2 separate regions of the Homo sapiens genome follow, and region 2 is linked to region 1. Evidence: fine-mapped expression QTL. A gene starts in region 1. The other region holds a variant in brackets. All regions are shown on one strand. Distances are between the middles of the regions.

The links.
Region 2: its variant is fine-mapped to the expression of BAALC-AS2 in monocytes (Quach 2016, PIP 0.95). The same link has a PIP of 0.9 or more in monocytes after Pam3CSK4.

What each region holds. Positions count from the first base shown.
Region 1 is chr8:103,133,965-103,150,250 of GRCh38, forward strand. BAALC-AS2 (BAALC antisense RNA 2) reads right to left here and starts at 7,378. Exons shown (of 2, transcript NR_027071.1): 1 at 7,290-7,378. BAALC (BAALC binder of MAP3K1 and KLF4) reads left to right here and starts at 6,761. Exons shown (of 3, transcript NM_024812.3): 1 at 6,761-7,093. The coding sequence starts at 6,934. It overlaps LINC01181 (long intergenic non-protein coding RNA 1181), which reads left to right. Exons shown (of 6, transcript NR_145429.1): 3 at 433-1,327; 4 at 2,389-2,574; 5 at 5,242-5,404; 6 at 5,909-6,391. RefSeq lists a silencer at 6,797-6,986.
Region 2 is chr8:103,075,001-103,091,286 of GRCh38, forward strand. It overlaps the pseudogene MTND1P5, the pseudogene MTND2P10, the pseudogene MTCO1P4 and the pseudogene MTCO2P4. Among named protein-coding and RNA genes, the nearest start is that of LINC01181, 38 kb to the right of the region's middle. RefSeq lists an enhancer at 3,537-3,706. The variant G/A (reference allele first, on the strand shown) is at 5,941.

The sequences.
Region 1 (16,286 bases):
GGGCAGGATGGAGAGGCAGCCTGATTTCCTGGTGTCTCAGCCTCTCTCTTCTATATCTGTATCTCCTCTGATGGAAGCATCTGTCGTAATAGCAACAACCAAGATAGCATTGAGAGAGTAAACTATTGTAGTCCCTTTCCCTCATCTTGGGAAATGATGAATAAAAGTCACCATCTGCTCCCCTGAGCCTTGCTGTGGTGCGACCTAACTTTACACGCAAGTACAACGAATGACCTGCCCCATCCTAAGAAGCAGTAGAATAATATGAAAAAGACTTTTTTTTCTGCTCTGCCTGGGTAGACAAGCAACTCTTTGCCAAGGGAAAGGAATAAGACATATCATGTCTCTTTAATGATTGAAGATCCAGGTTAACTGTGGTAGAATTAAGCAAAGAGCAAACAAATGTTCTGAATGTGTTTTCTTTTCTCTCAGAGAAAGAATCTCAGTCATCTGGACTGCTTTGTGCTATATGAAAATCTCTGAGAACCTTCAAGAGCCCAAAAACAGTTCTCCTCCATGCTGTATGCCATGGTCAGTGGTTAAAGAGAACATTTTGTTCCACTCCTCCAGCTCTGCCTTAGAAACCCAAGCCCTGCACTCCAAGGCTCCTGGCATCGTACACCAGCACCAGCAATTTTCTGCCAAAAGCATCAGCCAAAATCTATTCTATCTATTTCAGTTCCTCTCTTTTCATCGGATTGTATTTTTACAGGTGATTGCTGATTCTCACACTGCTCTTCAGATTCATGTACAGCTGTGGTCTGAATGTGTGTGTTTTCTCAAAATTCAAGTTTAAAACTTAATCCTCAATGTGATAGTATCAACAGCTGCGGCCTTTTGGAAAGTGAAGGTGGAGCCCTCGTGAGTGGGATTAGAGCTCTTATAAAAGAGATTGAAGGGAGCTACCTAGCCCTTCCATCTCTTCTGCCTTGTGAGGACACAGTGTTCATCCCTTTTGTCTTCCCACCATTTGAAGATGCAGAAAGAAGGTGCCATCTTGGAAGCAAAGAGCAGCCCTCACCAGACACCAAGTCTGCTGGCACCTTGATCTTGGACTTCCCAGCCTCCAGGACTGTGAGAAATGAATTTCTGTTGTTTATAAATTACCTAGTCTAAGGTATGCTGTTACAGTAGCAGGAATGGACTAAGACACACATTGTCAAAATCTTCATGAGTTAAAGGTGAAGGTACAATCAGAACTGGTGCATGGAATTGGAACCATAGGTCTTAGTAAACACTGTAAAAATGCACTATTCAAATCTACAGAAAATGCTCTCTCTTCAAGTTCAGAAAGAAGCTACAATCTGCTTTTCCTTTTTTTCTGAAGGGAAGTAAAATTCTATGTTTCTGGACTAAGAGGTCTACACCCCAGTCTTTCTCTTTCTGACATGTATAGTAATCTTTGGCAAATTACTCAAGCTTTCTTTGTTCTGGTGAAAATAAAGTGCACAGGACAGTATTACTAAGAGGCCTGAGCAACATTAGAGGTTGATAACGATGGTTCCAAAGGCCTTTAAGAAGGTGTAATGCTATGTGGATGTTTTTATTGAAACCTTCCCTGGGTTTTCAGAATTCTCTTTGGAATTAGTCCTGTGGGAATATGCCTTTTGGGATCTATTCTCACCTCTTATTCAGTCCCCCTTTTCTTGCATTACAATCTACAATTTGAAGTTATTCTGTCATTTAAAAATTAGGTCCATGACCTCATCATCACCGGGTTTTCCTCTCCAGGCCATTTCCAGTAGAATGTTGGTCATATTCTCATGTGAGAGAACAAATCAGTTATTCATTACATCTGATCAATGAGCTAGTACTACACCATAAGGAAGTGTAGTAAAACCAGAAACTGGGAAACACCCGAAAAAATTTGCTTTGTCCTGTGTTTTAATTTGGGGTATGATAAAGTGCCACAGGACATTAATCCAGGGACTGAGATAGACTCTTAAGTTTGGCAATCAGTGAAAGAACTTGCTGAATCTCTCTAGAATTAACCTAAAGGAGCCAGCCTCTTTTCTCATGAGAACAATTTATTTTAGGGTTAGTGGTGAATTAATTCTACAGTGTTTAATTCCACATATAAACTTCATTTTCTATATAAATGTTTTGTTGTAACATATTCAATTACTTCCTTTTGTTGTTTTTCTGCAACATTCCCTTTTTCACCTTTTCTAACCTCTTAAACCAAATAAAAAACTCACTTATCTTCTTGCTGTTGTAATATTTGCTTTCCTTTCTTGTTTATACTCTGTAATGATGTTTACCCGATCTGTCCACATCACCTGGATTCCAGGTGTACCATTCATGCCCTGGGGAAAGCAGTCATTCTTCAAGGCAACAGATGCAAGAATGAGCTCATGTCAAATGATATTTTCTGATTTTTTTCTCCAGATGTGGGGAACGAAATTGGATCTTGTGCTTTTGGGTGCTAACTTTGAGCCCTCTTCCTTTACATCTAAATGACAATTTGTGGATCAATGAGGATGTGTCAACTAGCCAAGATCGAGGACCTGGAGGGGTGCTCTGTGGAAACTGCTTTAAAATCCTTCAGAGGGTGGGCACGGAGCTCTGGTTCTGGTATGTTCACTGAATCTGTAGCAGTGGGGAAACTTGCTGAGATTTGGCATTCAAGACCAAAGAGATTTACCTAGGATCTGTACCCTGTTGGCCAGAATTATTGCTACTGTTGTTCTTCAATTATGCTACTTTTTCACTTGGAAAGAGATGGAAACTTGTAAGGCAGTGAATCTATCTTTACTCCTTTTCAGATGGCTGATTCTAAAGGCAGGTTTAGGTTCCTGCTAACCCTTCTGTTCTGTCCTGATTGTCCGCCTTACTGAAGGTCTGTTTTCTACAGCTCACAATAGTCGGGTAGAGTCCAGTGATGCCAAGCCACAGAAATGAGACCTTGGAGGGAGAAGCACTACAGGCCTTTGCTTCAGTTTCCATAGAAATGAGCCAGAGGTGGTACCAGTCACAGGGGTTCTTAAAGCCAGAGAGAATTTATTTTGAGAATCCCATCATATAGCAAATACCACTCTGCAGTAGTTTTTACAGGTGTAATTTATTTCATTGCTCTGGATGGCTTTGGCTCAGGCTTTCCAATGCCCTGTTGCAGCATTTCTCCTTAGGAGAATTCTTTTTTTGTTGCTTTCAAACTTGATGGAAAAAGATAACCAATTCATGCCAGTCAAGCTACAGATTCTGAACAGAGGGTTTAAGATAATGTATTACATTTTACATATTTACATTTAATTTATGACATTTATTCCTGAAGGTTTAGGAGAAAATTCAATCCCAACTAAAGAGCTGTAATTAAAAGAGCACGGAGCCAGCAGCCACAGGCCCCCAGCTCTGGCTGAAACTTCAGCTCTGCCAGAGATAACATTTCCTGTGTGACCTTGGGCAATTTTACAGCTTTCTGAGCTACGATTTCCTAGTTGGTAAAATAAAAGGACTGGATTGGCTGCTCTTTAACTTTTTCTGGCTTCTGAATTTCTCTGAATCAATGGTGTTACGTAATGCCAAGAAAGAGATTCCATGAAAAAATCTAACTGCTCTGTCGATGATGATTACTTAGAAATGGGGGTAAAAAAATTTATTTGCAGGAAGGTTGTTAGCAGTAACATCATAACGGAAGGAAAAAGAAAGGAAAGAAAAGAAAAAAACCTACCTATTTACCAAACTTCTGCAGTGTGCTAAGCAAATTCACAAACATTATCTCATGTGAAAAGACATAATAATTTCAGGGATTTCCCTCTTAAGGAAGAGAGATGACATTGTTGCTTGTTGCCCCAAAAGTGTTGTGATAGCAACATTCATGGAGTGTTTCTATGTGCCAGGCACTCTTTGAGGCCCTTTACACATACTGACACAATTTATTATTCCAATTTACAGACGATGCAGTTGAGGCATAAAGAGGTTAAGTAGCTTGCCCAAGACCATCCACTTAAGTAGCAGAGCCAAACTTTAAACTCAGAGAGTCAGGCTCTTGAAATTGCACTGTTAACTGTATCCCCACCTTGTCTTTTGCTATTCATTCATTAGGCAAACATTTGATGAGCACTGACTCTATGAAGGCATTAAGTTAATCCCTTTTGAAGATTCCAAGCATGTCACCATATCTTTGTCTTTAAGAAGCTTAAACTATACACAATAGATGATCAGAAATGTGTGTGAAATGAGTGACCACACTCAACCTTAGCCAGGCAGTACTTGATAACCATCTCCTGTATTCTGGAAATGTTCATAATTCCATTCAAGTAAGTAGACAGGGCCTGGCAAGAGGGGTCCCTGCTCTGGGCTCCTGCCCCAGAGGTCCCACTCTGGTTCTCCAGCCCTGGTCCTCTCTATGGCCAAGGAATCCAGGGATCACAGAATGCACGTACCTGGAGCCTGAGTCTCAGCCCCTTCTAACCTCCCTGTTGGGTAGTTGAGACCTTGCAACTCTCTTCTCCAAACCCACTGAGCCTACTTCCAGGGCTTGTACTGGAAGCAAACCCCATGAGGGCAGACCACATCCCCCAGGCACATGCTCCTCAGCCAGAGGGATGGCCAAGGGCAGCTATTTGTGGGAGGGGAGTATGGACAGACCTTAGACCCATGGGCCCACAAGGACCCGTGTGTAGCAGGACTGAACTGAGGATAGAAAGAGGAGTGGGTGGGTCAATTCCACCCACAATCCCACTGCCATGTTCAGTGCAGAACTCCAAAGACTGAGAGAACTCTACATTAGAACCTGGCCTTTTAAGTTTTTATGAAGATAACTTGTCAAGGTATGAGGACAGCCCATGTTTCAATTAAACTTGCTCACTTGGTTTATAGCTTTTACAATTTAGACATATGGGCATGTGGGTTTCTATTTGGCCCCAGGATACCCCTCCACTTCACCTCACGTTTACTCTGTTTCCTGTGCTCACCAAGCTCTAGCTCTTTCAGTTTCTTTCGTTTTCTAGAACTCCCCCAGGACGGTCTAACTCAGACACTCTTTCTGGTCTGTCTGCTCTTTGGGTGGTGACATCACGAAGTGGCTGGTTATGAAAGGAGCACTGTGCCGTAGAACTGAGGAAAGCACAGGCTCTGCTAGAGATGTTAAGTATTCTCTCTCCCTGAAAGCTGGTTCTTCTGAAATCAAAATATTCAGGGGGGAAGGAAAAGAGGCACAGGGCATCTGAATTCCAAAGGACTAGGGAAGCCACCACTTCCCGGATAACTGCACTCCCTCCACCTTACACCTAAAACAAGGTTGAAGAGTCCTGTCAAGGCCATCTCAAAAGGAGAAGCAAAGCCTGCAGAGGAGGCCAGCCTGAGTCCTGGGGTGCGAACGGGTGCTGCGCTCAGCATGAGGAGGAGGAGACCCTGGCCACAGTTCCATGAATCTTTGCTCCCTTCCACATTATGGATTCTGGTGAGTGCCTGCCAGAGGAATGTCTGACAGCTCTACCCTCAACTGGATCATCTTTAGCCCAAATTACAATAATTTAAGTGAATCAAATTACTATAAAAAGATACTTCATTATTAATTCACTGGACATTTACTGAGGGCCTACTCTGTGCCAGGCAATGCTCTGAACTTGCCCTACCTATTGGATGCTACGTGCTAAATGTTATAGACAATGTACTCTCGTACATTCTATAAATTATATAGGATATAATGAGTACTATATTCTCTATGCTTTACATGCTATATTAAACATCACACCCTATAGTCTACATACAATGGATAATATACAAAATATATTATATATGTATTATGTCTACTAGAACAGTCTTTTGCCACAATAGGAATTTAGTAAATATACATTGAATGAATGAATGAATGAATATGATACTTAATACCATATTCTAGCAGAGCTTGGTCATTGAAGAGTTATTCTTCCAAACCCTTCCCTTTCCTACCCCCCTCTTGAAGGCTAAGAAGATTTTCATCTTTCACCACCTGTTCTGGATTCTTGGAACAGGTAAATTCATTGGCCTACGCAAGTCTGAGCTCTAGGTCTGAACCCGCATGGACCTGAGGGTGCACCGAGAAAAGAAAGGCTGACAACTGGATCCCGGGAATGTCAAGGCCACCCTGGGCTTGAAGGGACCGGCCATGCCTCCAAGCCTTGCCCAGAGAGGGGGTTCAGGATGCTGCGTGGTTCCAGGTGATCTATTGCTTTCTCGAGTTTAAAGTTCAGAGGATCATGAAGTACCACAGCTGGAAGGGGTGTAAGTGACACTGCCTAGCCTAACTCTCTTAAAAATCATAGCCCTACTCCTGCCTCCCCAAATCAGATACGACAGGCATAGGCTCTGACTGTTCCTTAAGTCTTAGTGGCAATACTCCCTGACCAGTTTTGCGGGGTTGCTCCCAGTTCCATTGCTTTTGTAACAGGTGGCCAGAAAGCCTGGGGTCCCGTGATAAGAGTTTCAGTTCTTTCCAGGATGGATGGAAAGAAGGAAGGAAGGATGGATGGATGGATGAATGAATGAGCGGGTGAGCGGATGGATGGATGGATGGATGGATGGATGGATAGATGGGCCAGAGACTGGGAACGGTAATGCCGGCCAGACGGGTCCGAGCGCCTCGGGAGCCCCAGCCCTCCTCCGGCTGCGGGGCCGCTGCTCCTGCTCCCGGGCCGTCACGGAGCCCTGAGGGAGGGGGCGGGCGAGCGGGGGCCTTGGGGCGGCCAGGGCGCTGGGAGGGAGGACTGGGCGGTGGGGACCGGAGGGGAGGGAGGGCCTTGGAGGCGGAGAGGAGGGACGGGCTGGGAGAGGGCCCGGACTAGGGGCGGCGGGCACCGCAGGAGCTCCGCGCGGCTGCAGCGCGGGCGGGAGCGGGGACGCGATGTCGCCGCCGCCGCCTCCTTGCGGGCCGGGGCTGCGCCTCCGGGGCTGAGCCGCCGCCAGAGCCGACAGCCGAGCAGCCGCTGGGCGCTCCCGCGGCGCAGGAGGATGGGCTGCGGCGGGAGCCGGGCGGATGCCATCGAGCCCCGCTACTACGAGAGCTGGACCCGGGAGACAGAATCCACCTGGCTCACCTACACCGACTCGGACGCGCCGCCCAGCGCCGCCGCCCCGGACAGCGGCCCCGAAGCGGGCGGCCTGCACTCGGGTAAGTGGCCGGGCCCCTGCAGACCCTCGCCCGCCCGCTACCCCGGGCGCCTTGGCCCGGGCACTGAGAGAGGAGCCGGTTCCCTGAGGAATTGATGGCGCGGCGGGGGTGGCTGGGAGGAAGCAGAGGCAGGACCTGCCCACTGATCAGTGGACAGATGCAAGCCCAGGGAGTGGGGTCGACCAGAGCCCCTTACCGAAGGCTGCGCCGATGCCCCAGCTTCCAGCAGCCCAATGCTCTTTGGCCTTGTCCAAAGCTTGCTCGCTGGTCGGGAGACCGGTGGGTGGGAGGACAGCCCACCTCCTCCGCACACATATCCCTCAGCCACCCACCCCCTGATCCGCCCAGGGCCGCCTCCGCCCCGCTTTGGCCCATCTGCCATCCCCTGGCCACCTGCGTACCCAGCCGGGTGACTTCTCATCCATTGGCCACCTGGTGCCCCTCTCTCCCTGGATTTATACACAAGGCGCCTGCCTGGGATCGCCTGGGTGGAGTCTTTCTTGTCGCTTCCCCTTTTCTCCCTCTAGGAAATGAGCCCACTCGCGGGCTTCAAAGACCAGAATCCCAGTTTAGGTCAAAATAAATGCACCCCGCCCCATCGCTAGTTCTGCACTTTAGGTTACTTTTGGAGCAGTTGTTCCATAGCAAAGGACTTCTCTCCCTACCCTATGGTGTCCCAATGCTTTGCAGGAGGCAGGGCACACATGTGGATTTTGACTATAAATTAAATACTCTTGCCTAGGTCATTCCTCATCCAGCAGAAATCTGATAAAAGGAGATGCAAAGAATTGTCTGGTCAGGTCATAAGTCAGGATTTTATTTTATTTTATTTTTTTATTTTTTAGCAGAACAAGTAATTATAGCGCAGAGATGCAAACTGTTGCCACAGACTGACCTTTAATCATAAACATATTGGTGACATTAAAAGGAAAAAATCTCACTACTTATTACATGGATGTTGTCCAAAGCAAGGTCAATATTTGGATAAAAATGTTTTAAGTGTTTCTTCACCCACTGATATTATTGGCATTTTTGAATAATGAAATCTAAAATGGAAAATAGGGTTAATTTGAAGCATAATGTATAACATATGGAAGAGGAAGGAAATGCGAATTACTTTTACAAGGTTAAGAATCTTAAATCCATGCCTACTAAATAGAGCTGTCACTTTAATCAAGAATAGGTTTCTCCATTTTTAAGGACCAAAGCTGGCTCCTTTTCCACATTAACTTTGTGACTTGGTTTTATTTTAAAATTGAGGACTGTCTGTGAAAGCTGTACAATACATTACACTATATTTGTCTCCAGTTTTTCTGACTCACAGTGGCAATCAGAATGGTTATTTTGTATTGCCAATGCTTTTAGCAAGTCACCAAATGGTGTGTTGGCTGAATTCAGTGTCAGCATGAGGATAGATATGAGCCTTTTAGAGGGACCTGGTAAATGTTAGATGTGACAGGGTTTCCCAAGGAGGTATGGTACTTCTCAGCAGAGAGTCAAAGGCCAGAGATGTACTCCGAAGAAATAAGGGTGAAAAGATCTAGCATGAAAAAAATAATAATAAAAAACAACCAAAACCCCGTAAGTACAGCTTTAAGAAATGGTTGCCGTGGTGACTGGGAGTATATGGTGTGTGTGTGTATGTGCGTATATGCATATGTATGGGTATGAAAGAGTTATTATGGGATGGCTCTATATGTACATACATGTTCCTCACAACTTTCCTGACACTCCTTGATTTATTACTCTGCCATACTAATTCATATCCCATCCATCATGAGATCTGGTCACTGCAACAGGTGGGGCCTGGGACAGACACACTCATTCATGGTACCCTGCCAAACATGGGCCAGCCCTGCCAGAGAGGTGGTCCTGAAGGCCTGCATCCTCCAGAGGAGAAGCTCCACTTCAGCCCCAGGACAGCACCCTGAAATTGGCAAGACGCTTGTATGGGCAGGGTCATTTTAATTCCCTGGGAATTTCTGTTAGCCTCAGGGGAGAGGGATATTTCTGAAGACCAAGATTAAATCAAGGCCTTCTTTGGGGGTGTACTGGCATTCCCTAGGGCCTTTGGGAATGGCTTGACTTCTGTGGGTTTTTCAGACTGGGAGCTGGTCATCTTTAGTCAGAATGGGTCATCCGTGAAAGCTACAGATCTCCTGGGTTTCAGCCACCCTGGGAGACTGGCCAGGATTCTGTATTCCTTTCATCTTCTCTGCCCCCTCACTTCCACCTCACCCACCCCCTGCCAGTGCTTTACTCATGATTTTACTCCCAAGCTGCTGGGGGACACCTAACAGCCCCCAGTGGCTGCGTTGTGATAGGAGGCCAGAATGCCACTTTTTCCTGTTTACAGAAGTTGTTTTCTGATGGGAGAGGTGGGTAGGAGTAAATGAAAGAGCCAGTAGATTCAGGAGAGTCCAGACTGTGAAATCAACAAAAATGGCTTCACTACTAGAATTCTAGAGCTGGAGAAGGTCTCTGGAAGTCAGCCACGTGAGTCAAATGAGACTCTCAGGGGAATCATCCCCATCTGAACACTCCTTCAACCACTCACAGACTTTACCCTCAGCTCCCAAGAATCCCTTCTTTCTGGGACCTTAGTGATTCTCCTTTGGTGTCAAACTGAAGCCACCTTTTCTCCTGGCTACTTCAGGACTTTTGAGGGCTAGGGGAGAAGCTAATTCATCTTTGCATCTTCTGTGCTGAACACATCTGGGACTTGTAAAAGTTTTCAGAATGAATGGATGCTCTGTCTGAACCTGTCCTCCGTCCTGTCAGCTCTTCCTAGAGCCCCTTCTGCCTCTTCTTTGCAGTACTTGCTACTGAGGTTTTCCCACTTGAATCAATTTAGCCTGAATTCTTCCAACGGCCTTTCTGATCGCACAACTTCTCTTTAAAAAGTTCTCCCCAACTTTACCCTACTCCATTCAAACACCTGGCCCAACCCAACGATTCCATTTCTTCTGTAGCCTCCCTGAACCCACAACCTCAACTCCACAAACATGTCTGCCCAAGAAAAGTCCCATTTAATCATATCTGCTTTTAAATCTCACTTGTGTTTCTCTTAGCCCAATCCAGATTGAGGGTGTGTCACATGACAGGTGTTCAGCAAATATTTGTTGAATGAATTCTGAATTTCACTGCAGGGAGGGGGCATGTTTTTCTCCCAGTTCCACAAAGAAGAAGGTTTCTTGCATCTTCTTACTCAAAAAATGATCCTGAGCCTGTGGTTCCTGTTTTTGGAGATCATCTCCACTACTCAATGGAATTGAATTAATTTTTTAGATTTGACTGTTACGTAGGCTAGAATTTAAAAGCTAGCTGAAGCCAAGGTATGTGATATCCATTGCTTTCCTGTGTCACCAAAGTCTGTCCCTCTGTTACAGAAGGAAATTAAATTGGTCTGACATAATTTAATCCTCATAAAATCAGTCTGCTGGATTGATTTTTAATTCTGTTGCCTGGTGGGGGTCTCCAAGGAGAAAGGAAGTCTCTGAGGTTGCCATGACCCAACCTAGCTCAGTCATTCCATTCATTAATAACTTCCTAGCTTCATCTCAGTGTAATCACAAGCCCCAAAAATTGCATCCTTAAGCACACTTTTTTTCTAATTTCTCCAGAGAAAACATTTCAAAACTTTCTAAAGGACTTGTACTTTACATTTTTAAATTGCTAAATCATTGTCTTAGTATAATAGAGGTTTGCAGAATTACAGACAGCAAAATGATTTACCTAAATAAACTGAAAGATAGTCAAATAAAATGGACAGCATTTAATATCACCATTACCCATCATTTATTAATGACTTACTGGGGCCTGGTGCTTTATTGGGCACTTTGAATTTTCTCATTGAATCCTCACTTCAGGAACGAGGCAGGAACTATAGCCACCCTCCTTTTACAAGTGAGGAAATGAGGCTGGAAGTCTGCAAGTAACTTTTCCCAGTTCCAGCCTGGAATCTAGTTCTATCCATTTCCAAAGCCTCTACTCCTAAATACTGCCTTCCTGATTAATAGGGGATATGCTATGAAATTCTTGATTTTACAGTTCACTAAACTCAAAGTCAAGTCTGATCTCTTGATTCTACTCTGATCTCAGACAGCACAATTGTCTTCTGCATCATCTCTAAGGATGGAATATCTTTTCCCTAAGGAAGGAGGCTTTCCCATAACTTTATGAAGCAGTTCTCCTGTGAGACTCTTCCTGCTTCCTTGTAATTTCTACCCGGTGAACTCCAGACCCATGTGATCAAGTCTTGCACAGACAACTCTTTCAATATTTGAAGATGGCTGTCACATCTCTTACCATTGGTCTTCCAGGTCAAATACATGCAGTTCCTTCAATCACTTCTCACACCTCAGGTAGGCCTGACCACATTCTCTAAATACACTACTCGGTTTGTCAAAGTCCCTCTTGATACAAGGGACCTATGGCTAACTCCAAGCTACTGATGTCAGCTGAACGGCATAGGGCAATACAAGGTGTGCTATGATATGGTCATTGAACAAACCTCTCTTGGTGCATGTAAAATCAGGTTAGGATTTGTTTGTTTTCCTGCTGTTGTTGTTGCCATATTACCTTGAAGACTCACATTAAGCTTATGATTAGTTAAAATCCTTAGATCTTTCTTTATAATCAAATTTAAGTTTTATGACATCAAGGACATTGTATTTTCTCTGCTATGTACCCAGCACCTGGTACAGTGACTAGAACGTAGGTGGCGCTCAATAAACGTTTGTTGAATGAATGAATTTCTTTCCTTATGAATCCTGAATTGGTATAATTGACTTCAGTAACCCAAATAAGGAATTTTTGCATTTATTTCTGTTAAATTTCATCTTATTGGTTTCAGTTTAACGTTTAAATTTGCTGACCTTGATTCATTTTGATAGAGCTATGAAAACAATATTCTAGGTCTTTGTTTCTCTGTGTTGACAGAATAAGATAAAAGACATCTTTTTTTGCTCTTTTGTTCACTGAATAGACATTTGGCACAAAGATGACCTGAAGAAGTTACTATTATAGGGAAGAAAAACATAAAAGTGGACACCGTTCAGGTCAGCATTGTCCATGGTCCATACTAGAAGGGCATGTAGAAAAGCATTAGAGGCATTCAGGAACTAAGCAGTTTTTTTCTGCCTGGGGAGGGGTCAGTGTGTATACAGACCCCTGCAGGAGCCCAGCAGAGGAAGGGGGACTGTCCGAGCCAACCCTCCCACCCTGGAGAGGAACAGGAGTGCAGCCCAGCTGGCCTGACTCCATCCCCGAGAGTGAGAGCACCTGTGGAGAGGACAGCCAGGGCTTCCTGGTGGATAAACCCCCTCCACCCACACCCCAGCTGCCTTGACTTACCTGTTACCGCTTGTGGTTCTATCTTTGAATAACTAGTGATTAATGTCTGCTTCCGTCAAGGATGACTGTTAGGTTTGGTAAGGCAAGGGTTCTGTTGGGTTAGATAAGGTTTCATTTCACACACAGTCCTATCCCTGTACCTAACGCTGTTCTGGCTACATCAGGACCCTGAGTAACTTCTCATAAATGAATAAATCTAAAACTTCTGTTTGTCAATTTCTTCTTGTAGACCCCAGAGATGATGTTCTCTTTCCTCATCAGTTCTCTCTGCTCAACTTTTTGTTGTCTGTCTGATGGGCTGCACAGTAAGAAAACATCCCCACCTTCCTTACACCCCTTTTGCCAAACACAAGCCTTTTTGTTATAAGCTGTTTCTTAAAATCACTGCAAGAGACAAGTGGTAACAAACCTAGGCAGTTTGTAAAGGTTTAGGCAGCCTCATGTTCCCATGGCCCTTGTCTCCTGGGCAGAGTATCATGTTGTGCCATTGGCTCTCCAGACACTTTGAGAGTCTAGTGATGGTACCTGTCACACTGCATTGCCAGGGCTTGGTCATTCCTCTGTCTCTCTAGTTAGTCTGTGAGCTCTTCCAGGTTGGGGATCACATGATTGATATTTGCATGCCTGGCATCTTCCACACATTTGTTGAATGACTGTGAAAATGAATAAATGAATGAATGATCTAGCTGTGCAAATGAAGCTTAGTCTGTCATTCTTATAACCTCTTTCCTGAGTCTCATCTTAGATGCTTTTGTCTTAGATATCAGTCCATTGAACCTTGTCTTCATTGGACATTAGATAAAACAATTCCAACCCTAGCCAAAGATGAATTTAAGGTGACTCCACTGCAGGGTGTAGTAGTATCCTAAGTGCATTCCAGAATTTCCTCCAGAATATGTAGAAAGAATGAATAAGACCTACTATTTGATAGCACAATGGGATGACGATAGTCAATAATAACTCAACTGTATATTTTTAAATAATTTAAAGAGTGTAATTGGATTGTATGTAACTCAAAGGATAAATGCAGATTTTTTTTTCTGCAAAAAACATTGCAGATTTTTTTTTCTTCGGTTAATAGGCCCTGGTGGGAAGAACCTAGTCTTCTCTGAGTCAGAAAGGGGTCTTTTCCTGGCTCATTCTGCACTCAGCAATCCCTCAGGTTTGGACTCCTGGAGGTCCAACCTTCACCCTGGGATCTGTGCACCTGTGATCCATAGCATCTTCCTGCTGATAAGGCCATTCTGCCCTTGTGAAGTTGGGTGTCTAAACCTGTTCTCGGACAATGGTGCTGTGCCATTCATCCCAGGAGCCCTCCCATGTCAGGCCTACAGCCTCGAGACACTCTCAGCAGACCTTTGGCCTCCGCTGCAAAATCCTATCCCTATAAAGACTCCTTCAGAGCCTCTCTGGCCAGTCTATATGCCACATTTACTCTCCTCTGCAGAGCAGACTCGAGGGGTTTACCCTGAGCCCAATCATGATATAGCTCCTGCTAGCTTGGCTACCAGGAACGCTTGCTTCCTCACATGCCTGACTCCCACTCTGTCTCATGCCCAACCACAGCCATCTCTCTTGAGAATGTTGTTCTTTTAGAATGTTGTTATGTGCTGATTTGTGTCTCCCCCAATTCACATGTTGAAGCCCTAACCCCCTCTCTACCCCGGTACCTCAGAATGTGACCTTATTTGGAAAGAGAATCTTTAAAGAGGTAATCAAGTTGAAATGAGTTCATTAGGGTGGGCCCTAATCCAGAATGACTGGTGTCCTTATGAAAAGGGGAAATTTGGAGATAGAGAGACACACAGGGAGAACTCCATGTGGAGATGAAGGCAGAGACCGGTGATGCTGCCACCAGCCAAGGAGCATCAAGGAAAGTCCACTGAAAACCACTGGAAGCTCAGAGAGAGGCAGGGGACAGATTCTCCCTCAGGGCCTCCAGAAGGAACCAACCCTGCTGATATCTTTTTTCATTTTTGATTTCTGTGGGTACATAGTAGGTGTATGTATGCATGGAGCACATGAGATGTTTTGATACAGGCATGCAATGTGAAATAAGCACATCATGGAGAATGGGGTATCCATCACCTCAAGCATTTATCTTTTGAGTTGCAAACAATCTAGTTATACTTTGTTATTTCAAAATGTATGATTAAGTTATTATTGACTATAGTCACCTTATTGTGCTGTCAAATAGTAGGTCTCATTCATTCTTTCTGCCTTTTTTTGTTTGTTTGTTTTTTGTAACCGGCCTGCTGATATCTTGGTCCTGGACTTCTGGCCTCCAGAACTGGGAAACAGCAGGTTTCCGTTGTTTAAGCCATGCGGTTTGTGGCACTTTGTTATGGCAGCCCTAGCAAACTAATGCAAGTGTGTTTATGAGCACTAACACTGTGAACATTTGGAAATAATAAGAGAGACGGATTTCCACTGTTACTTCCTCACACTTTTTTCTGAGATTGGATCTATTTCCTGGCTGTTTAGATTCAAATAGCATTTATTTGTATCTACTATTTGCATTTACTATATGTGAGAATTTTTCTTTTTGACACTAGTTTATATCACCCTCCGAAATAACCTCATAAACCATTGTTCTCATCACTTGCCAGATGAGGAGCTGGGATTCAGTGAGATGAAGAGACTGAGCCAGGCCACCAGCTTGGAAGTGGGAGAGCTAGGATCAGAATTCAGGTCTCTTGTTTCTGAATTCAGGGCAGGGTCCATTGTGCTGTGCTGCTAAGCACGAATGTAGTACCCTCCCCCCACCCCATCTGCCTTGGGCTTTTCTGAAAATATTAACCATTTAGCGTGGGAGCCTCCTGCTAGCATTTACAAGGCTGAGTCCTGCAGCTCTGCGGTGCTTACACTGCCCTCTCCCTGTGCTGAGTGCCCGTGCTGCTCCAATCTCCATCTCCATAGAAAGGGTTGCAGGAGGTGCCCCAGGTGTCACCTGCATCCCAGTCACCTGACAGGCCCATTAAACAGGAACAGTCTTTAGGCAGAATCATATATTTTTTTCTGGTTTCAAATGCAGTGCATGCTCCTAATTAAACATTTAAAAAGCATAGAAAAAGCACACAGAGGAAAATAATGCCTCTCTCAGCATTTAGGTTTCATCTTTCAGGTCCCATGAAGACGATGCTGTATTTGCATCTTATACGTGAAGGTGATGTTTAAAGTTCCGGATGGGGGGATGGGAAAAATTCCTCAAACTGCTTGGAAGCTCAAAAACCAAGAAAAATTATATTTGTTCATTTTTGTATTTAGGAAACTATATGGAGGTAGTGGGAGCCCAAGTCTAGTTTGAATGGAGGAAGAGAAAGGGGGAAAGGTCATGGAGAAGTAAAGGGATTTTTCTTTTTTTCTTTCAATACTGGGCAAATATACTTGAATTCAGGCAAATTACATACCAGGTAATTACTGTAGGTGATTCCTCCATGTTTCCCTCTTACCTCCCCCTCAAGCCCCCACAACAGGCTCAGGCTGAGTATGCTGTTCTATATTTTTCCTAGCTGTTTTCTGGGATTTAGTCTCTTTATGGGTTGTATTAGTCTGTTTTCATGCTGCCGACGAAGACACACCTGAGACTGGGTAATTTATAAGGAAGAAGAGGTTTAATGGACTCACAGTTCCATGTGGCTGGGGAGGCCTCACAATTATGATGGAAGGTGAAAGGCACATCTCACATGGCAGCAGACAAGAGAAGAGAGCTTGTGCAGGGAAACTCCCCTTTATAAAACCATCGGATCTCATGAGACTTATTCACTATTATGAGAACAGCATGGGAAAGACTCACCCCCATGATTCAATTACCTCCCACCTGGCCCCTCCCACAACA
Region 2 (16,286 bases), 59 kb before region 1:
GTGCTGGGATTACAGGTGAAAGCCACTGCACCTGACCAATCTTATTTAACTAATTAAATAGCTACATGTGGCTGGTGGCTACTGCGCTGGACATAGAGGTCTAGTTGGTCACACCTGGCTAATGAGCCTTTTTGACCTTGAGTTTCCAATATATCCCATATCCTTTGGCTTTTTTTGTTTGTTTTTTTATGACTGGAAGAGCCAGCCTTGCTTCTGTTTACTTTGATTGCTAGATTTAACATCCCCACAAGCCTGAGAAAAAGAGAGGAAAGGATTGCTCTTGGAATCATTGTTGGTGTGCCTCAGATTGCTACGCAGGACAGCATTCTCTTTGATCACAAAAGACAACTACATATACTTTGTGCATTGATGTGCACGAGAGTAAACTGGTTGTCATACTGAAAGACCAGAAGCTGTTTCTGATGGGAAATATTGAATCAGCAGAATTGAAAACACAGCTGTGTGGTTCTAATGGGAATATAATTTCTTCTGTCAATCAGTGCTCACTTAGTATCCATTGTGTGCAGAGCATTCACTATTCCAGCCTCTGCAGGGAGACATCAGGGAGATGCTCACCACGTGCTTTTGAATGATATTATTTGTCTTTATTGACTCTAAGAAATGTAAGAGGTTCATAAAACATTGAAGCCATTAAGGCCTTATTTGAGAAGTCTAGCAACTCACAGTTGCCCTTGGAAAGAGGCAAATAGGAAGGGGAGAGCCCTCTGTCAGACTTGTTTTCCATCGGTGACATGTGGCATGGATTTTACCTCCTACCGTTAGCTGGCCACCCTCTGCATTCAGGCTTGTGAAGCATTCTGGAGGCCCCCCCGCCCCATCCTCCACTCCCGGCTCTTCCTTTGGCATCCCCACTGGCCATATTTCTTTCCTAGTCTGTTCTGACAGCCTCCTAACTGGCCACTTGTCCCCAGTCTCTGGTCACCTTCAGCTCACCCCAGTTCTGGGACCAGAGGACTGGCAAGTCACTTCTCACAAATTCCGAATTGCTGCTCACTTGCCCTCGGGATAGAGGCTCTATTCAAACTGGACTTTCTTCCCTTTTAGAATTGGCTTCTCTATGTGTTCTCTGAAAGAAGAATATCGTTTACTGTTGTTGATTTGATGGGGGCCGCTTTGGAGGAGGAATTTAGACCATAGATGGTTCCTAGGGATGCTCCAGCAGTCTCCTCTCCTTTCCTACCTCCTCCAAGCAGGCCACATGAGCCAACTTCACATCTGTGCTCTCTCAGGATGTAAAATCGTGGGCAGACTAGCATCCCAGGGTCTGAATCATTCCTTCCTCTGTAGAAGAAGGATAATGAGGATAACACTACAGGACTATTGTGAGAATGAGGATTAAACCGCAGGTCCAAATTTTCTAGCATGGTACATGGTGCAGAGGAGGGGCTCAACATATTAACTGCTGTTGTTATTGTGTACTACCCTTTTCCATGCTGCATGATTTGTGTTTCTTTTTTGCCTACTGCCTCATATCTTATGTGAGATGAAATTAGTTCCTCTTTAACTGCATCTGTTTAGAAGGCAGATTTCCCATTAAAAACCTGCTGGCATCACATGACCAGCAAGTTCACACCAACGTGTAAACCCAAGAAAACTGAAACCATATATTCACACAAAAACCTGTACATGAAAGTTGATAACTGCATTATTCATAATAGCTAAAATTGGAAACAACCCAAGTGTGCATCAACTGATGAATGAATGGATGAACAAAATCCGGTTTATCCACACAGTGGAATATTAGCCATAAAAAGAAATGGAAGTACTGACCCACGCCACAACATGGATGAACCTAGAAGACATCGTGCCAAGTGCAAGAAGCCAGACACAAAAGGTCACAGATGACTTCATTTATGGGAAATGTCATGCATAGTCAAATAAATCGGTATAGAAAGAAGATTCGTGGTTGCCAGGAACCAGGATGGGAAGGGATTTAGTAGTGGCTGCTAATGGGTACAGGGTTTCTTTAGGGGCAATCACGTTCTGGAGTTAAGATAGTGCTGATGATCACGCAACTTTATGAATATATTAAAAATCACCGAATTGTATACTTTAGAAGGTGAATTTTGTGGTATATGAATTGTTTCTCAATTTAAAAAACCTACCGGGAATTAGCTCAGATTTTCTACAAATTCTCTTAATTCTTTGCTTATCTGTTTATATCGATAGAATTTTTAAAAATTAATTTGAATTTCCTTTTACGAATGGTAAGGAGATTTGCCCTTTGGGGTTTCACTCCGTCCAGTGCTCTTGCTGTCGATTCTGTCTGTTTGCCTTTTTTGTTGTTTTCGTTTGTCCACTCAGCATCTCAGTTGGCCTTAGCTGCAGCCGTCTGCAGCCGCCTCCTCCACTTGGGGGTTAGGTTGCACATCTGTCCCAGAGTAGCTCATCTCACTGGTTATCACATTAGCAGTCACTCATGTCAGCAGTCCCCGAAGAAAAGATAGCTGGTTGGCTGGGGATAAAGCATCTGAAACTTTGCTGGTCTGATGATATCTTTCTGTTGTTTCAGTACATGTGTCACTGACAACTTGCTTAGGTAAAAGTGCCCATAGTTCCTTCATTTGTTCAACAACCATTTACTGAGGGCAGAATCCTCATTCACTTAGTGAATACTTAGTAATTGTTGAATACCTGGGTACTAGGGCAGGAGCAGCCAAATGAGAAAAAGGACTCTGTCCACATGGAGCCTACCTGCTGGTGGACGATACACAATAAACATAGCGAACAAGGTAAGACTTTTCGCCCTCTGCACCTGTAAGGCCATTGAGGACTAACCTGGCTGGGAATGGGTAGGAAGAGCTGCTTCAGAGGGGTGTCTAGATATACCCCAGAGGATGCCAGCCATGTGAAGACCTAGGGGAAGGAAGTGTCTCATAGAGGTTGGGTAATAGAGGATCAGCGTGGCAATAGCTGAGTGAGTGAGTGAAGGGTGTGGTATGTGCAGCAGATGCACCTAGGTGGGGTCTTCAGAACATGGTGAAGAACTCAGACTTTTTTCTTCTAGCAAAGGGAACCCATTTTAGGGACTCATGTGCATGTTTCAAGGATCACTGCAGCAGTGGTCATACTTGTGTGTTTGTAGCCCCTATTTCTTACGTCGTGCTTGGCGCATTCATAGCAGGCACTGGGTTCTGGTTCAGAACTGAAGTGGATGAATGCATGGAGAATGTACTAAACCCGGAAGTGTGCCAGACTCTGCACCCGAAAGTTCTCTGCAGCTTCTCCAACTTTAAGAGTGTTCTGCAAACACACTGAATGCTTTGCCTGGATCTTCCTGTGAAGATCCAGGCAGAATTTAGTAATAGAAATTTGTAAAATTTATTCTTAAATTCTTTTGCAACTGTCTTGATTTCTTCACAAACATAGTCATCATCTGTTTATCAAATGGGCATTTTAAATAATATTTGACACATAACTGGCTGACTCCACAGCTCCAAATTAGTCACACGGTAGTCTTTTGATAATAGCCAACATGTGACAACAGGGATTTTTTGCACGAGGTGGGGAGCATTCTGGTTTCCTTTTCATTTTTCCAATATGTCATATTTCTCACTTCCACTTTTCTTAGAGGGGAGGGTTGTCTTTTTGCTTCAAACTATTATAGGCTTTTACTGAGAGACAAGAGGCTATGAGCCCCACTCAGTAGAAGAAGGGTTTAAGTCTATCATATAAATTATTGCCGCTCTAACTTCTCTCTGTCCCTGCCTCTTAAGTCATTTACGGTATTTGTTTGGGTAGCTATATTGGATTTCTTCCGTTTTTCCAGGGGAAATACAGCAACTTTGGAGAGACGTGAACATGGGAATATATGAATTGATTGCTTGAGAAGTGTTAGTGTTAGTTCTGGAATGAAGTCCTGTGTCATTAGGTGCTTACGTTGAAAGGAAATGTAGAATTTTCCATAGTCGCAGCTTTCCAGATTTTAATTGGCTGCTTGCCCTCGTGTCACTTTCTTTTCTAAAATAAATGTTTTGGATGGCTCTTATCTTTACAACCAGGCACACAGCTTCATTTCCTCCTAACTAGGAAAGTTAACTCTTCAGCTACATGGTGGTACACAATGTTGTCCCTGCTCAGCAGCCCTTGAACACTCATTAAATCCCACATTAGAGCTGCAAGGAGATAGTAACATTTATTAGGTGCCTCATTTTTTTTTTTTTTCTCTGAGAGCGGATCTCGCTCTGTTGCCCAGGCTATAGTGCAGTGGTACCATCAGGGCTCACTACAGCCTCAACCTCCCAGGCCCAAGTGGTCCTCCTGCCTCAGCCTCCTGAGTAGGTGGGACCACAGGCACACTCAGATATTTTAAAAAATTTTTGTAGAGACTATGTTGCCCGGGCTGCCATTGTTTATCCATTGATTTTTTATTTTATTTACTTATTTTTCTTTTGTCTTTTTTGTTGCCTAGTTTCCCCCCTGTTCTTTGCTTCTTAATTTTGGTTGGTCAAAATCTTTCTTTTAACATTTTGTTTCCTCTTCAACCTTGGGAATTCTTCTGTTTCTATTCTTTCTTGCCTTTTCCTTGCTTCATTTCAGGACTCCTTTCCAATGAACCTGCCATTTTTTCCTGCAAAGATTGTAGTTTAAAAGAAAGCCCACTGGCCTGAAACTTTATGTAGCTAAGCAGCTATTTCAAATTCTTTCTGAGGTTGAGGGCAATAAATGATAAAATCACGCAGTCAGGCAGTGTGTTAGTTCTCTAAAGACAAGAGTTCAGAGTTCTGAGTTCTCCAAAGACAAGAACTAGTATATGAAGAGGTTTATTATAAGAAACTGGCTCACATGATTACAGAGGCTGGCAACTCCAAAATCTGCTGAGTAGATGTCCTGGTTTGAGTCTGAAAGCTGGAAGCTGCTGTAGAACCCAGAAGAGCTGATGTCCCAGTGCAAAGGCATCAGGCAGGAGAGTTCAGTCTTACCAGGGTCAGTCTTTTATTCTATTCAGCCCTTCAACTGATTGGGTGAGGCCCACCCACATTATGTCTGCTTTACTCAAGACAACTACTAATTTAAATGTTAATTTCATGTAAAACACTGATATGGCTGGGCTGTGACCCCACCCAAATCTCATCTTGAATTGTAGCTTCCATAATTCCTTCGTGCTGTGGGAGGGACTCAGTGGGAGATAATTGAATCATGGAGGTGGTTTCCACCATACTGTTCTCATGGTAGTGAATAAGTCTCACAAGGTCTGATGGCTTTATAAGGGGAAACCCCTTTCACTTGGCTCTCATTCTTCTTGTCTGCTGCCATATGAGATGTACCTTTCACCCTCCACCATGATTGTGAGGCCTCTCCAGCCACATGGAACTGTGAGTTCATTAAATCTCTTTCTTTTGTAAATTGCTTAGTCTTGGGTATGTCTTTATCAGCAGCCTGAAAACGGACTAACACACCCTCACAAAAACACCCAGAATAATGTTTGACTGACCATCTGGGCACCTTGAGGCCCTGTCAACTTGATGCATAAAATGAACATCTCAGGCAGCTCTTGCTTTCTCAGTTACAACAGGCCCCGATCCTGGCCTTTGGGTTATTTGTTGTTTGATATATACAGAAATTAAACCCAAATTTAAAAAAAAAGGGACTGAAATCTCAATTCCTAACCATGGCATTATTTTTACATTTATACCATTCTGATGCCTGTTTACCACATTTTGTGTGCATTCTTTTTACTGGTCTCTGGTCATCTGTCTCCCATTCTTCACAAGAATTGTTCCAAATCTTCTCCCCTTTTCACAGGGTCCCTTTCCAAAACTCCAGCTCTTTTGTGCTTTGCTTAAGATCTGGCCTCTTCCCAGATAGGAGAGGTTGTTTACCTTGCTAAGGTCACACAGCTACTGTATGGTAAGACTGGGATTTAATTTGAAGCAGTTGGTCTTGGTAGTCATGGGAGCCCACTGGGTGCTGGGTGCT[G/A]GGCACTGTGCCACGTGCTAAATGCCCCAGACTTCCCCATGCTGGGTCCTCCTCGTGCTGGGAGGGTGTGTACTCTTCCAGCCAGCATGCCCTGCCCCTTCTGCATGCCACACTCTGCTCTGATCTTCAGCCCAGCACCCGTCCCTCTGCACACAGGCCTTTGGCGCTTTGTTTGCTCCTATGATTTTCTGCTATTTTCTGTTTAATTCTCTCCTTTTTATTTGCATTATATAAACAGTTCTGTTTCTTTCATTAAGAAAACACCTCTCACAGGCACAGTGGCTCACATCTATAATCTTAGCACTTTGGGAGGCTGAGGTGGGAGGATTGCTTGAGCCCAGGAGTTCAAGACCAGTCTGAGTAACATAGTGAGACCCCATCTCTATTAAAAAAAAAAATTAGCCAGGCGTAGTGGTGCACACCTGTAGTCTCAGCTACTCAAGAGGCTGAGACAGGAGGATGGTTTGAGCCCAGGAGGTTGAGGCTGCAGTGAGCCAGGATCACATCACTGCACTCCAGCCTGGGTGACAGAACCAGACCCTGTCTCAAAAAAAAAAAAAAAGACAGCCCTTTTCTCTGACCCCTATGTCCCTCTCATTTGAGGAACTATCTATCTTTTCATTTTCCTCCACATTCTTTATTCTTTTTAACCTCCAAAGAGGCCCTCCACCTGCATTACGTGCCTTGCCCCATTAATAATGTACTAGTGCTATGTATGCTTGATTTTACATAAATGTTTTATTGTGCATTAAGGTCCATTCCCCATGCATATGCGCACATAAATTGCACTAATTAGAGTGCACAGCATGTTATATTGCAAGATTACATAAAATAGATTCAACACTTGGATATTGTCCAGTACATTAATTCCTTTCTTTTACATAGGACATAATATCATTGATTGTGCATGGCACATTAAGTCACATCAAGTCACATCAATCCTTAACAACATGCTTATCACTTCCAATAGGATTTCTTTACCACCAAGCTTTGAGAAACCAGCAACCTACTCAGGAAATGTCCTTCTTGCTTTGGGCCCATAAAACCTAGGGGCTTCTAGACTTGAAACTATACCTAGCATCTGGTTCTTACTTCAGGGCCATAGATTTGAAACCACTCATTTGTTCCCCCTAAATAAGACATCTCAGTGACTAATGACTAACTAGCACAAGATGACATGGAACTGTGGGGTCATGCATTTGGTATTTTTTAATTTTGGAGGGTGCTGTGATCCAACATGGCTGTCAATGCCTTGACACAGTCAGCTAGATCGTAGCTGCGCTTAAATGGAATATTCTTTACTCACATAAAATCATTTGGTGCTAATTGATTCATCTCAATGGACGTAATAAAAACAAGATATAGACACAGACACATACAAGCAGTTCTTCCTGCCATGTATGATTAACTTTGTAAACCCCTCTACCCTCCTTAAGCTCTTATAGTATCTGAGTAAGTCTTTTATTCTTGCCAACCCTGCCCAAATAAGAAACCTTGTATCTATTGACTGCTAACTAAGGCTCCTATATATACTCACATGCTATTAAATTTAGTTATAAGTTCATCTAGCATTAACCCAACTCCTAATTAAAGCATTTTTCAAAAATCCAAACATCAATTAAAAATTAGGCTTTCTAGGCTAAAAGTTTTTTTCTTACTAAGATTACCAAAAGAGCCCCCAATGCTAACATAGCACATAATTTAGCAGTTTTTTTCCCCAGGACAGAATTTTCTAGATATAAGTCGATGTAGCTCAGTCCACTAAAGTAAGGCACTGAAAATGCCTAGATGAGTTCATGTAACTGCATAAACACACAGGTTTGGTTCTGGCCCTTCTATTAATTCTTAGTAAGATTACATGTGCAAGTATCTGCATTGCATGTGTAATCAGCAAAAGAGCAAAAGGAGCAGGCGTCAAGCACACTAATTGGTAGCAACTAACGTCTTGCTCAGCCACACTCCTACAGGAAATAGCAATAATAAAAAGCAATAAACAAAAAGTTTGACTAAACTATGCTAATTTTCCTTAGGGTCAGTAAATTTTGTGTCAGCCACCACAGTCATAAACCCAAATTAATAAAATCTGAAAAGCACGTTTGTGTTTAGGATAATACAAATAAACTACAAAAATGACTTTAATATGATCTGAATACACAATAGCTAAGACCTAAACTGGGATTAAATACCCCACTATGTTTAGCCATAAACTTAAAGTTATTCACTAGAGTACTATCAGCAACAGCTTAAAACTCAAAGGACTTGGTGGTATGGTGTTTCCATCCCCCCTAGAGGAGCCTGGTTCATAATTAATAAGCAATGATAAACCTCACTATTTCTTGTCAATTCAGCCTGTATACTACCATCTTCAGCAAGCCCTAAAAAGGTCATAAAGTAAGCACAAGTACTTACATGGAAACATTAGGTCAACATGTAGCTTATGAGATGGAAAGAAATGACTTACATTGTCTGATTAAAGTACACCCAACCCATGATAAGCCTTATGAAACTACAGGCCAAAGGAGGATTTAGTAGTAAATTAAGAATAGAGAGCTTAATTGAATAAGGTTGTGAAGCACACATAGACCGCCCATTACCTTCCTCAAATGCTTCAATAAACTCAAGTTTATAATTAACACAGACCCATCTATAAGAGGAGATGTCAGAACAAAGAATACTGGAAGGTGTGCTTGGACAAACCAAAGTGTAGTTTAACTCAAGGCACCTGGCTTATGCCTGGAAGATTTCATATTAATCTGACCACTTTGAACTAAAACTAACAAAATTTAACAACTACATACACATTTTAACCAAAACATTATTTACAACAGGGAGGATAGGAGATGATAGAAATTTATTTAGATGCTATAGAAAAAGTACTGTAAGGGAAAGATGAAAGAATAAACTGAAAAAAAAAAAAAAAACAAAGCTTACCCCTTATGCCTTTTGCATAATGAATTAACTAGAACAATTTTACAAAGAAAACTTTAGCTAAAAACCCCAAAACCAGATGAGCTACTCATGGACAGTTACAAGAACAAACTTGTTCATGTGGTGAAATTGTGAGAATATCCTTGAGTAGAGGTAAAATGCCAGTCGAGCTGGGTGAGCGCTGAATTTCAATTCAACCTTAAATTTACCTAAAGAAATATTTAACCTTAATGTAAATTTAAACGTTAATCTAAAGAGGGACAACACTTTAGAAACAGGAAACAACCTTTTATAGAATGTAAACTATTAAATTCTCATAATTGGCCTAAAAGCAGCCACCAATTAAGAAAGGGTTCAAGCTCAACAATCAATATCTTAATTCCAACTATTTATATAAACTCCTAATATTTTACTGGACTAACCTATGTATAAATAGAGGTGATTCTGTTTATATAAGTAACAAGAAAAAATGTATCGTTGCATAAGCTTATATTGGATACAATAGCATTCCTAATGTTAGCTGATAGTTACCAACTCAATAAATTAAACCGATCAATTGACTGTTTATCCAAACAAATATTGCAGGGTTCAGTGGCTCACACCTATAATTCCAATGTTTTAGGAGTCCAAGGTGGGAGGATTGTTTGAGGCCAGGAGTTCCAGACCCCATCTTTACAAAAAATAAGCCAAATAGCCAGGTGTGGTGGCATGTGCCTGTAGTCTTCACTACTTGGGAAACTGAGGTAGGAGGATCCCTTGGGCCCAGAGTTGGAGGTTGCAGTGAGCCATGATCATGCCACTTGCACTCCATTCTGGGTGACAGAGTGGGACCTTTTCTCTAAAAAACAAAAAAGACCAATTGTTAATCCTACACAGGCATCCACTACTGCACTACTTAAGGAAAGATTAAAGAAACTAAAAGGAGCTCAGCAAATACAAACCCTGCCTATTTACCAAAAACATTACCTCTCATATAACTAGTATCAGACTAGTATGTCACCTGCCTTGTGACACATGTTTAACAGCTGCAGTATTGTGACCAGTGCAAAGGTAGCATAATCATTTGTTCCCTAAATAGGGACTTGTATGAATGACCACAAGAGGGTTCAAGTTTCTCTTACTTCCAATTAGTGAAATTGACCTTCCTGCCCCTGCGGAAAGGCAGGGATATTAAAATAAAACAAGAAGACCCTATGGAACGTAAATGAATTAGTCTACATAACACAACTTTAACCTAACTATTCAAAGGAATAACACCTAATCTACCAGACTAAAAATTTTGGTTGAGGTGACTTCAGAGTACAACACAACATCCAAATGATTAAAATCTAGACTAGACCAGTCAAAGTAACATAATCGCTTATTAACCTAAGCAATTTAATCAATGGAACAAATTACCCTAGGGATAACAACACAACCCTATTTTAGAGTTTGTTATCAACAACAGGGTTTGCAACCTCAATGTTGGATCAGGACATTCCAAAGGTGTAACTACTATTAATGAATGGTTCGTTTGTTCAATAATTAAAGTCCTATGTGGTCTGAGTTCAGACCGGAGCAATCCAGATCTATTTCTACCTATTCAGTATTTCTCTTAGTACAAAAGAATAAGAGAAATAGAGCCCATTTCAAAAAACTTCCTCAATTTTAATAGGTTATATATAATCTCAACCTAATATACTATTAAATGTCCTGCCAAGAACAAGGGCTTATTAAGATGGCAGAGCCCAGTTATTGCATAAAACTTAAAACTTTACAATCAGCTCAACTCCTTCTTAACAGCATGTTTATAGTTAATCTTCTACCTATTAGCCCCCCTCTCCTTGCAATAGCATTGCTAACAGCTGAATAAAAAGTATTAGATTATATACAGTTTCATAAAGGACCTAATACTGTAGGCCCCTATGGCCCACTTCACTTCTTCACTAATGCCATAAAACTATTCACTAAAGAACCATTACGACCACCAACATCTTCTATACTATCATATGCCATTGCACCCACACTGGCCCTGGCCCTTGCACTTACTATGTGAATTCTACTAATCTTACTGTACCCACTAATTAACATGAATATAGGAACACTATTCATTTTAACCACATGAAGCCTACCCATATATTCCATCCTTCAATCAGGATGAACATCAGTTTTAAAATGTGTGTTAATTGGTGCACTATGAGCAGTAGCACAAACAAATTTATATGAAGTTATCCCAGCCACCATTATTAGTTCTCTCAATAAGCAAATCATTTACATTAACAACTTTAATTGATACCTGAGAATATGTACGACTATTTTTTTCATCATGATCCTTAGCCATAATATGATTTACTTCAACAGTAGCAAAAACTAATGGAGCCTCATTCAACTTGACACAAGGTGTTGAAACTTGTGTCAGGCTTTAACATCCAATATGCTGCAGGCCAATTTGTCCTATTTTTTTTATATAGCAGAGTACACCAACATCATTATAATAAATGCCCTAACCATTATCCATTGCCTAGAAGAACTCCATGATATTCACATACCAGAAATTTATATACTCAACTTCATCATGAACACCATTTTCCTATCTTACAGTTCTTGACTTTGAGCATTATACCCATGATTCCAGTATGATGAACTCATGTACCTTCTATGAAAAAATTTCTAACCACTCAAATTAGCCTTATGCATATGACACATCTCAGTACCTATTTTACTACTGCATATTCCACCACACACATAAGAAATTTGTCTGATAAAATAGTTAAAGAGAGTAAATGATAGAGATTTAAGTCCTCTTATTTCCAGAATGTTACGAATTGAACCTACTCTAAAGAATTCAAAAATCAGCTGGGCATGGTGGCTCCCACCTGCAATCTCAGCACTTTGGGAGGCCAAGGCGGGTGGATCACCTGAAGTCAGGAGTTCGAGACCAGCCTGGCCAACATGGTGAAACCCCGTCTCTACCAACAATACAAAAATTAGCTGGGTGTGGTGGCACATGCCTATAATCCCAGCTACTCTGGAGGCTAAGATAGGAGAATCGCTTGAACCTGGGAGGCAAAGGTTGCAGTAGGCCGAGATCTGGCCACTGCACTCCAGCCTGGGAGACAGAGAGAGACTCCATCTCAAAAAAAACAAAAAACATTCAAAAATCTCTGTGCTGCCTAATATACCATATTCTATAGTAAGGTCAGCTAAATAAGCTACCAGGCCCATATCCCCAAAAACATTGGTTTATATTCTTTCCATACTAATTAATCCCCTATTTTTTCTACCATTCTATTTACTGTCTTCATAGGAAAACAATCACAATATTTAGCTCACATTGACTAATAATCTAAATGGGATTAGAAATAAATGTATTAGCCATGATTCCCATTTTAATGAAAAAAGCAAATCCATGATCCACAGAAGCAGCTACCAAATATTTCTTAACACAAGCAACCATATTTATACCCCTAATGATAGACAGCATCATTAACATATTGTATTCTGGGCAATTAACAGTCATAAAAATTCCCAAACAAACAGCATCCCCGGTAGTTACCATAGATAGCACTAATGATAAAACTTGGACTCTCCCCATTCCATTTCTGAGTCCCAGAAGTAACACAAAGAATTTCACTAATATCGAGCATAATCCTATTAACATGACAAAAACTGGGACCAAGTTCAATTATATTTTCAGTATCATATCATCGATTAATCCATCAATTAATCTAAATATAATACAAATAATTGCCATATTATCTATTCTAATAAGACGATGAGGAGAATTTAATCAAACGCAACCATGAAAACTCTTAGCCTATTTATTCACCAGTTGCACATATAGGCTGAATAATAACTATCCTTATTTATAATCCCCCACAATAATCATAAACCTTCTAAGTTATATCATTCCAATGATTACCATATTCATAATATTTAGTTAAAACATAAATACCACAACACTATCACTATTGCACACATGAAATGAACTACCAATAATAACTTCTATAATCCTTATAACTATTATTCTTAGGAGGCCTACCCCTACTTACAGGATTTCTACCCAAGTAAATTAACATTCAAAAATGTTATTATGCCAACATTCATAATTATTTTCTTTTTTTCTTGCCCCCCATTCGTAACTATTATAGTATTTCTCAACTTATATTTTTATGTATGACTATTCTTTATTATTAACTATATTTTCAACAACCAATAACAAAAACAAAATGACAATTGAAAAATATAAAATGGCTTGGGTAACATAGTGAGACTTCATCTCTACTAAAAATTAAAAAAAAAAAAGTAGCTGGGCATGGTGGCATGCACCTGTAATCCCAGCTACAAGGAGACTGAGGCGGGAGGATCACTTGATCCTGGGAGATCAAGGCTGCAGTGAGCTGTGATCATGCCACTGCACTCCAGCCTGGGTGACAGAGGGAGACCCTGTCTCAATAAAAAAATTAAAATATATATGTATAAAACAAATATTCTTTCTCCCATCACTTGTTTTACTATCAGCTCTTTTCCTCCCACTTTCACCAATATTTCCAACATCAAACTAGCGATTTAGGTTAGATAGACTAAGAGACTTCAAAGCTCTAAGCAAGTACCCTATACTTAATTCTTGAAACATAAGGATTCCAAGACTCTTACATCAATTGAATGAAAAAAAAAAACTTTAATTAAGTGAAATCCGTACTAGATTGGTGAGCTCCAACGTCACAAAAACTTAGTTAACAGCTAAAGCATTCTAATCAGTTAGCTTCCATCTACTTCTCCCGCTGTCGAGAGAAAAAAGGCAGAAGAAGCCCGGGCAGAATTGAAGCTGCTCCTTTGAATTGGCAATTCAGTGTGAACATTCACCTCAAGACAGGGTCGAAAGAGGGTTCAACCTCTGTCTTTAAATTTACAATCCAATGCTTATTCAGCTACTTTATCCTCTACCTGTGCTCGTTAACCCTTCATCAGTCTCAACAAACAACACAGGATAGTGACACTATAATTTTCTACGTGGTGTTTGAGCCAGAATAGTAGGGACTGCCCTAAATCTTGTAATCTGAGCAGAGTTAGGTCAACCAGGAGTCCTATTCAGTGACAATCAAATTTATTTATTTATTTATTTATTTATTTATTTATTTATTTATTTATAGACAGAGCCTCGCTCTGTTGCCCAGGCTGGAGTGCAGTAGTGCAATCTCAGCTCACTGCAACCTCCGCCCCCTGGGCTCAAGCGATTCTCCTGCCTCAGCCTTCTGAGTAGGTGGGACTACAGGTGTGCGCCACCACCACATCTGGCTAATTTTTGTAGTTTTAGTTGAGACAGGGTTTTGCCGTGTTGGGTAGGCTGGTCTTGAACTCCTGACCTCAGATGATCCACCCGCCTTGGCCTCACAAAGTGCTGGGATTATAGGTGTGAGCCACCGCACCTGGCCAAGTGACAATCAAATTTATAATGTCATCAGCACTATATCTTTATGGCATACCTATTCCAATTAGGCTTTCAATATGTAATATCACCTATGATAGAAGAACTTCTACACTTCCATGATTACACTTTAATCAGTTCTTGTGTCCATAATAATCGTTTTAATAGTTATGCCTATTTTAGTGAGAGGACTTGGCAACTGATTAGTCCCCTTATTAATCAGAGACCCTGATGTAGCATCTCCCTGAATAAATAACATATGATTCTGACTTCTCCCACCATCATTTCTACTCCTGCTTCCTCAACAGTGGAAACCAGCACTGGCACAGGATAAGCCACCTTTAGGCAGAAATCTTGAGCACGCAGGAGCCTCTGTAGATTTTGCCATTTTCTCATTACACCTAGTAGGTGTCTCATCAACCTTAGAAGCTATTAATTTATTACAATTATTAACATTAAACCACCAGCCGTGTCCCAATCTCAGGCACCACTATTTGTCTGATAAATGCTAATCACAGCTGTATTATCTCTTCTCTCCCACTCTGTTCTAACAGCCATATTCTTAAAAGACTGAAACCCTAATATCACTTTTTAAAAAAATCTAGCTGCAAGAGATCTAATTTTATATCAACATTTATTCTTATTTTTTTGCCACCTGGAAGTGTATATTCTTATCTTCCCTGGCTTTGAAATAATCTCACATATTATAACCTATAATCCTGGGGAAAAAGAACCATTTGGTTATATAGGAATGGTGTGAGCCGTGATATTAATTGGTTTTCTAGGCTTTATCATATGGGCTCATCGTATATTTACAATAGGGATAGACATTGACATTCAAGCATATTTTACACCGGCCACTATAATCACTGCTATTCCCATAGGAGTTAGGGTTCAGCCAACTGGCAACCCCGTGCAGAAGTAACATTAAATGATCTCCAGCTATATTATGAGCTTTAGGCTTTATCTTCTTATTTACAGTTGGAGGCCTCATAGAAATGGCATCAGCTGACTCATTGCTAGACATTGCTCTTCACAAAACATATTATGTGGCAGCACATTTCCACTATGTTCTATCAATAGGAGCAGCCTTTGCCATTATAAGAGGATTTGTTCACTGATTCCCACTATTTTCAGGTTACACACTCAATTCAACCCAAGCCAAAATTTATTTTAGCATTTTATTTGTAGGTATTAATTTAGCTTGCTTTCCACAATAATTCCTTAATTTATCAAGAATTCTCTGAGTTACTCCAATTACCCTGATGCATATAAAACATGCAATTCCATCTCATTGATAGGCTTATATATTTCATCAATGACAGTAATATTAATAATCTTCACAATCTGAGAGACTTTCATGGTAGTGGAAGGAAGCCAAGAACTGCCAAGAAAGTACCGAGAATTATCAGTAGTGGAACTTTCAACTACAACTTGAATGGCCTCCTGGCTGCCCATTAGCATATCAGACATTTGAAGAGCCTGCTTATGCAAGAGCTTAAAATAAGAAACAAAGGGGCCTGGCACAGTGGCTCACGCCTGTAATCTCAGCACTTTGGGAGGCCGAGGCGGGCGGATCACCTGAGGTCAGGAGTTTGAGACCAGACTGGCTAACATGGTGAAACCCTGTTTCTACTAAAAATACACAAAATTAGCCAGGAATGGTGGCGCATGCCTGTAATCCCAGCTACTCTGGAGGCTGAGGCAGGAGAATCGCTTGAATCTGGGAGGCAGAGGTTGCAGTGAGTGGAGATGGCGCCATTGCACTCCAGCTTGGGCAACAAGAGTAAAACTCAAAAAAAAAAAAAAAAAGAAACGAAAGAAAAAGGAAGGAAGGAAGGAAGGAAAGAAGGAAGGAAACGTACTTCTTAACTGGTTTCAAGCCGATTTCATCACAATTATGACTTTTTCAACAAGTAAGACATTAGGAAAAATAATTACATAACTTTGGCAAAGTTAATTTATAGGTTAAAATTCTTTATATCTTTATGGCATACCCATTCCAATTAGG